2 separate regions of the Homo sapiens genome follow, and region 2 is linked to region 1. The links come from fine-mapping of genetic effects on gene expression. A gene starts in region 1. The other region holds a variant in brackets. All regions are shown on one strand. Distances are from middle to middle.

Evidence for each region. PIP is the estimated chance that this variant, and not a neighbour inherited with it, causes the effect.
Region 2: its variant is the best candidate, but not a certain one, in a credible set for the expression of CRISPLD2 in whole blood (TOPMed, PIP 0.58).

Annotation. Positions count from the first base shown.
Region 1 is chr16:84,817,636-84,821,635 of GRCh38, reverse strand. CRISPLD2 (cysteine rich secretory protein LCCL domain containing 2) reads right to left here and starts at 1,651. Exons shown (of 15, transcript NM_031476.4): 1 at 1,503-1,651. RefSeq lists a silencer at 1,689-1,878.
Region 2 is chr16:84,913,122-84,917,121 of GRCh38, reverse strand. No RefSeq gene overlaps it. Among named protein-coding and RNA genes, the nearest start is that of LINC02176, 13 kb to the left of the region's middle. The variant G/A (reference allele first, on the strand shown) is at 2,477.

The DNA of each region.
Region 1 (4,000 bases):
GTCAGGTTCATGGGTGGAGTTGGCAGTGGGCAGGGAAGTGTCTTAAAGAAAGCAGGGTCAAGAGTGCAGATAGGACCCACCTGGGGGTGACAGCATTCCATACCAGCTGGGGGATCTTAGGCAAGCACTTCACCTTGCTGAGCCTCAGTTTCCTCAGCTGTGAAGTGGGCATCAAGAGGCCTACTCCCCGGGGTGTTGCAGCGATGACAATACAGGTAAACTGCGTGGCACAGACCGCGTGCCTGCCGCACAGGCAACACAGTCACACACCCACCCCTTCTCCTGAGTGGGAACAGCCAGATCAGGGGCAGAAGCAGAAAATCAGGTGCATACAACCCAAGGAGCCCTGGGACAGCCGACAGTCACAACTCATGGCCTCAGTCTACTGGAAAGGACCACGCCCCGGTCCTGTTCTGCAGGCTCTCCTCACTGTCAGACATCAGACCCTGGATGGGGAAAGCAGGCTCACCCCATTCTACCAGGGCAAGAGGTCCAAAGGCCCAAAGGGGAAACTCACAACCCCACTCTCGGTTGCAAGGCAAGCTAGGCATTTGCACGGGATGCTTCTCTCAGCCAGGGCAGCAACTCACATTTTGGCTGAGAGACGCCCAATTCAAGTTGGACTGCGATGAGCAGGCATCAGCGAAGTCCTCCCTGGCTTGTCCACCAGCCCAGCCTTAGCAAGGGAGGCTCTGGGTCTGCAGCACATGAGGGACTAGCCCTGGCTCTGTCCACGTGGGACGACCGATCTCCCCCACACTCCAGAGTGAGCCCTCCGCTTCCAGGGTAACTCTCCCCACGCAGGAGTTATGCAGGTGCCCGCTCTGGCTAAAGAAACCCAGAAACGTGTTCCCCCAGACTGCAGAACCCTGACATGGCCCCAAGTCTCTACACATCCATTTGAAGCTCTGGAGACAGACAGAGCTGGGTTCCAGCCCTGGCTCTGCCCGGACAACTTACTTCACCTCTCTGACCCTCAGCATCTTCATCTGAAATGTGGGAAGAAGGCTACCTTGCAAATGAAATCACAGAGGGGCGTGGCCCTCTAAACTGCAGCTGAATGCACATGCCACTAGATCACCCTGGTCCTCCAGACATGAGTAGGACACATTCTAATGCCTGCCATATCCATGCCATCAGCTTTCCAGTTATTGACACCCACTACGAACACAGGAATGCAACAAATGCTAGTGAACTGCACGAGGAAGGCAAGAGAGTAAACAGCCTCTAAGGAGCAGGATTCTGCGCTCAGATCGGCGTTGAATCCTGGGTCCTTGGAGTCCTGGCTGCGAGGTCCTGGACAAATGAGTTGTCCTCGCTGAGCCTCAGTTTCTCCATCTGCAAAAGGGCATGTCGCAAAGCTGTGTTCCGCTATGCAAGCAGAGCACTCGGTGTGGTGCCAGCACACAGTCAGCCCTGCGAGGTGGCATCTGTCCTAGTTATTCCAGCTTCTCGGGGGGGTAACAGTTTGCAAAAGGGAGAAGCATGGAAATCACACTTACCTCCGCAGGGCTCCAATCACCAGCTCGCTGGCGTCTCCCGCGTCCAGCAGACGCGGTAGCAGCGGCGACAGCGCGGGCACAGCAGGCACAGCGGGCACAGCGAGCAGACAGCTCAATAGGAGCAGCCGGAGACGCCCTGGGATGCGAGTGGGTGCCGGGGCTCAGCGTACCGCCTCTTGTAGGCTCCCCGGAGCCCGGAGGCCACGCCCCCAGATCGCTGGCGGCGCTGGTAGGACCGAGCATCACCGGCCCCGCCCCCGGCCCCGCCCCGCAGGCTCAGCGGGCTGAAGGAGGCGGGGGGCAGCTGAGGCGCGGGCGCCGGGTGGGCGAGGAAGGCGGGGCCGCTGGCCTCCAGGGCCGGCTAGGGACAAGGAGACGCTCAGCTCCCTCGCCACTGGCCACACAAGCATAGTTTTCATTGAGCGCTTACTATGCGCCTGGCGCGGTGCCAAGCGCTTCCCACAAGGGGCTTGCAAATTTACCAAACCCCAGCTCTCTGCAGCTCAACTGGAAAATAGGAATAAGGAGGCGACCTCCCAGGATTTTAGCAAATGAAATCCGCAAGGGCTGGGCGCTGTGAACTGTGGCGCGGTGCAGAGTACACAGTTACTGAGGTGACTCCCACCCTCTACACGTGCTCAGAAAACTTAGGCCCCCTCTTCCCAATTTGCAGACGAAGAAAGGGAGACTTGTTTCCGGATGGGGCCGCTAGCGCGGGGATCCAGGCTCCGCACTTTACCTTCAACGACCCTAGGACGCGTTCCCAGGAATCCAGGGAGGTGGAAATCACCTCATTTCACAGATCCAGTAGCTGAGGCTTGGAGAAGAGCGTGCCCCAAGTCCCGTAGCTAGGAGCAGTGCAGCATGTTCATATCTCTTTTGCCCGGAGGCATTTAGCATTTTTAACCTGTGCAGGTACATACGGAAATCAATTTAGAGCCAGACGAAATCACCTTTGAAACAGGTAAATCCACGTTCCTTAAGAGCTAAGGGACTGCCCCGTGCTCCCGCCTCAGTCACAAAATGTGGACGGGTATGCAGGCACTGCGCGGTAAGGTGCTGGGGCCCAAGGGCAGGAGGGGGCCTGTCCGCACTGCTCATCTCCGCACCAAGACACCGGAATTAGCTCCTCCAGCATTAACTCATTCCCCAAATACCCATCGAGTCGCTCTGTGCCGGGCCCTGTGCTATACAGCAGGCACAAACAAGACACCTCCGGGATCTCAGAGTCTGGGGCCCCCACGAGCTAGGGCACGTGGGAGAAACAAGGATGGGGAATGGGTGGAACAAGGACTATGGAAGGCTGCCTGCGTGACGTGGACTCAAACAGGGAAGGCTTGCCTAAGATTTTGGTGCGGCTCAAATGCAGATACAGAATAATGCAGACTGGCCGGGCGCGGTGGCTCACACCTGTAATCCCAGCACTGTGGGAGTTTGAGGCGGGCGGATCACCTGAGATCAGGAGTTCGAAACCATCCCGGCCAACATGGTGACACTGTCTCTACTAAAAATACAAAAATTAGCCGGGCATGGTGGTGCATGCCTGTAGTCCCAGCTACTTGGGAGGCTGAGGCAGGAGAATCGCTCGAACCTGAGAGGCAGAGGTTGCAGTGAGCTGAGATGGCGCCATTGCACTCTAGCCTAGGAGACAAGAACAAAACTCCATCTCAAAAAGATAATAATAATGCAGATGTTTTCTGTTATCTTTTTTTCCTCTTTTTGTTTTACTTTTCTCAGTCTTTGAAGCATCATTCTTCAGAGGCACTCAACTGGCATGCAGTCATCCAATAATTAAGCACCTACTATGTGCTGGGCTCTGTTTCAAGCACTGGAGGGCTCAGTAGTGAATAAGACTGTTCCAGAACAACAGTCCTTGGATTGACAAAAGACAAATCCAAGGGGAGAAGAGATCTGTGTTAGCAGATGCCTTTGGAGGCCTGGCACGATGGCTCAGGCCTGTAATCCCAGCACTTTGGGAGGCCCAGGCAGGTGGCTTGAGTTCAGGACCAGCCTGCAACATGATGAAATCCAGTTGCTACAAAAAGTAGCCAGCATGGTGGCATATGCCTGTGGTTCCAGCCACTCAGGAGGCTGAGGTGGGAGGATTGCCTGAGCCTGGGAGGTGGAGGTTGCAGTGAGCTGAAATCGAGCCACTGCATCCCAGCCTGGGTGACAGAGCAAGACCCTATTTCAAAACAAAACCAACCAACCAAACAAACAAACAACAACAAAACAGATGCCTCTGAGTACCTGACCCCAAAGCATTATACTGCCAAATCCTGCCACCCCCAACAACCCTCCAGGCTGGTCCTGTTATTAGCCTCATTTTTTCAATGATGGAACTGAGCACAGAGAGTGTAAGTCACTTCCCTGAGGCCACACAGCCTCTGAATAGAAGAGCCAGGATTTGAATTCACACTCTCACCCACGTGGCTGCCATTGCCTGTGACCATGAAACCTTGGGTGCAGGGGAATGGAATGAACTGGGTCCCTACTCC
Region 2 (4,000 bases), 95 kb before region 1:
CACGCACACACGCACACATGGAGGAGACACAGAGCCCCTTTTCTCCATCAGTTTCCTGAGCCCAGCCCGCCAGGCAAGGGGATCGGCGAGGAGGGAGGAGGTTGAAACTCTCAACAAGGCTCCTGGTTCCCCATGCTCTTTGTCAACTCCCTGGGGAGAAATCAGCCGCATTTACTTTCTGCCTCCTTTTAGCCCTTCATTTAACAGGAAAACATCCAAAGGCCCAGGCAAAAAGTCAGAAAAGGGGAGTCATAGAAGCAAACTCTTCTCCCCAGGGCTGAGCAGGTGGAAGCAGAGGCACCTGTCTTTCCTACCCAGGAAATCACACTTTGCAGCCTCTCATCCTCCATGGAGCAGCGGTTTACAGCTACACACACCCTGACCTGCAGCCTGGAGCTGCTGAAATCAGAAAACGAGACCAGTGTCCACACTCGCTCCTCCAGGGTTGGTGCCACCAGCTGTGTGTTCATTCATTTGCTCATTCATTCACCAAAGTGGCACTGGATATAGGCGCTGTATACAGCATCCTGGACATAAGTAACTCCATCCTGGAAAAAGACTCCATCCTACATTTTAAAAGGCATCATGATAACAGGGACCAGATGTTTTGCCTAATCCACAAAGACTGCACCTATCCGGATAAGAACTCCCGGGCACACTCTCTTCCTCTCTCAGTCCCCACCAGAAGATTCTGTGGCCATAAAGAGAGCAGGACTCCCTCAGCTCAAATCTGCCGTCTTAACAGACACTGTCTTGCTGTCACTGTGGTAAGTGCCTGGCATCTGCCGCCGAAGGCTCTGCCCACATCAAAGACTCTTCCTTGGAAGGCGCTGACGGACCACCCAGACCCGGACAGGCCGGGATATCCTTCTTGTCCACATCACTCTCCCTGGAATGGTTCATTAACCCTTTCTCCTATCCTCTCCTCTTTTTTTTTTTTTTCTGAGATGGAGTCTCACTCTGTCACCCAGGCTGGAGTGCAGTGGTGTGATCTCGGCTCATTGCAACCTCCGCCTCCCAGGTTCAAGCGACTCACCTGCCTCAGCCTCTCAAGGCATAATTGGATCAGGGTGCATATAGCATCCCTGGTCTGCAGGGAGCTATCAGATTATGTGTGCCATTTGTTCAGGATAGCACCAGCTACAAGGTGTCATTGCCATGTTCTCTGGCGGCATCTGTTGAGAGGGCCAGGTCTCCCATCCATGCCCTTTCCCTGTGGGGAGATCCCCTTCAGGATCTCCTGGCTGTCTCTTTTTGGGGGCATGGGAGCCTCTGCCTGCCCTCCCACACCAAACCAGGGCATTGCTGCCTCACTGGGCGGCTCCAGGCTTGCTGTGCCCTGGACTCTCTTCCAGGCCCCTCTCCTGAGAGTGTTCAGCTTGCAGGGTGGGGAATACTGCAAATTCTGAGTGGAAATGTGGAATAGGCCCTTCTACGCTTGGGTTTTTCAGGACTGTCCTGGCACTTTCTCCCTTTTTTCCCAGCTGGATCTGGCTCTGTGAGAGATGGGAGAAGGTGACTCTTTCCAGAACCCCAAGTTCATTTAAGCAGAAAAGGGATTTGTTAAAAGGACCTTGAAGATTCCACAGAATCTCAGGGAGGGCTGGAGGACCAAGCAGGGAAGCTCTGCAGCCAGGAGTGGCTCCCAGTTCCTGCCACGGAGCTGTATGAGGGGACCCGCCTGCTTGGTGGCAGTGCTGTGGCTCCACGCAGCCCCCTGGGGTGGGAGCCCAGGCTCTCCTGTTAGACCCACACTGGGGGTGCCATATGAACAGCAGGCCAGTTCATTTTTATTTTTTATTTTATTTTATATATTTTTTTGAGACGGAGTCTTGCTCTGTTGCCCAGGCTGGAGTGCAGTGGCGTGATCTTGGCTCACTGCAAGCTCTGCCTCCCGGGTTCATGCCATTGTCCTGCCTCAGCCTCCGGAGTAGCTGGAACTACAGGCGCCCGCCACCACACCCGGATAATTTTTCTGCATTTTTAGTAGAGACGGGGTTTCACTGTGTTAGCCAGGATGGTCTCAATCTCCTGACTTCATGATCCGCCCGCCTCGGCCTCCCAAAGTGCTGGGATTACAGCATGAGCCACTGCACCTGGCCAACAGCAGGCCAGTTCAACGGGAACTGCAGATAAGCAATAAGTACGTTTCGGGGCTAAGCGTGTCCCATACCGTATTTTATTGTTATTATTTTATTTTGCCTAAATTTGGCATTCCCACATGCTGCCCCTGAAGCCCCCACCGCTCCCCTGAGACCTTTCTGGACCCCACTCCTTGCACGTGGTGCCCAAGCTGCAGGGGAGTCTGGGAAAGCGAGTGTCAGATACTCCAAGTTTCTACAAGGGGAGGGGGCCCTGTCTCGTAGGACTGGGGAGCCCCTCAGACCATTGCCAGCATCTAGGTTTAGGCTTTTGCTCTCCATCATCAGGTCTGGATGGGGTGAGGAGCCAAACTCTCCCCAAATCTGTTGTTTTC[G/A]AGATACAAGCATCTCTTCCCTCAACCTGTTTTCTCTGCCAGAGTGGGGTTTTTTTTTTCCACCTATTTAGACACCATTCTCCACCAGAAGGAACCAGGGCTCCTTGGAGAAATGGCTGATTCCAGGGCTGGGCAGGGGAAGTACAAGATGAGCCAGGAACATCTTGTTGTGCCAGAAAGTCAGGAAGTCCTCGAATTGATGGGCCGCGCTGGAAGGACACAGAGCCAGCTGGACGGAGCTCCCCTCTCCAAATCTGGGACAGTTTGAGCATCCAAATAAAACTGATAGGAAAGCATTTTAATCCACTGCATAAAATAAGAATTCCTGAGTCCATGCCAATGTATATGTGTGTCTATATTATAGATCAGTGATATAATCATATCATATCTACATCTATATATCATATATACATAATATGTATCTAGATAGAGATCGTATATCTGCATGACACACATATAAATATATATCAACTATATAACATACACATATATCATTATACACACACATATGCATGTGTGTATGCAAATAAATAAATAAATGGAGGAAAAGGGAAATCTCTTCCTTACAGTACAACGCCAACTAATAAATGCGGAAAGCACAGTGGAGTTAGAAAGTTCACCTTTGGCAACCATCATAAAATACTTGTCTCAAGAAAGAATCATCAATAGAGGCAAAAACTACTGGGTGAAGTTTTTATGGGGAATAGGCTATTTACATAGTCTCAATATATCTCTCCAGAAGATAATTACTTAGTTTAAAAAAAAACAGAGGCCAGGCACAGTGGCCCACGTCTGTAATCCCAGCACTCTGGGAGGCTGAGGCAGGTGGAATGCTTGAGTCCAGGAGTTTAAGACCAGACTGGACAACATGGCAAAACCCTGTCTCTACCAAAAATACAAAAAATTACCCGGGCATGACGGCACACACCTGTGGTCCCAGCTACTTAGGAGGCTGAGGTGGCAGGATCACCTGAGCCAGGGGAGGAGGAGGCTGCATTGAGCCATGTTCATGTCACAGCACTCCAGCCCAGGCAACAGAGCCAGACCCTGTCTCTAAATAAATAGGAACTTCGCAGTGGACAGATCTGCCAGATGCCTCAGCCAAGCCATCAGAGTCAGCAGCTGCAGGAACAGGACAAACAGATGCGGCTTCTGATACGAGCCACGGAGAAGGACACAGTGTCTCCCCTGCGGTATCTGCCAAAAGTGTATACCCTGAGCCTCATGGTGAAGCAACACCAGACAAACTCAGGTTCAGGGACATTCTTCGAAATATTGGCCAGCTATCTTTAACTAAAAAAGTCAACATCATAAAAGGCAAAGATAGGCTGGGGCCAGTGGCTCACGCTTGTAATCCCAGCACTTTAGGAGGCTGAGGTGGGCCAATCACCTGAGGTCGGGAGTTCAAGACCAGCCTAACCGATATGGTGAAAATCCGGCTCTACTAAAAATACAAAAATTAGCTGGGCTTGGTAGCACATGCCTGTAATCCCAGCTACTCAGGAGGCTGAGGTGGGAGAATCG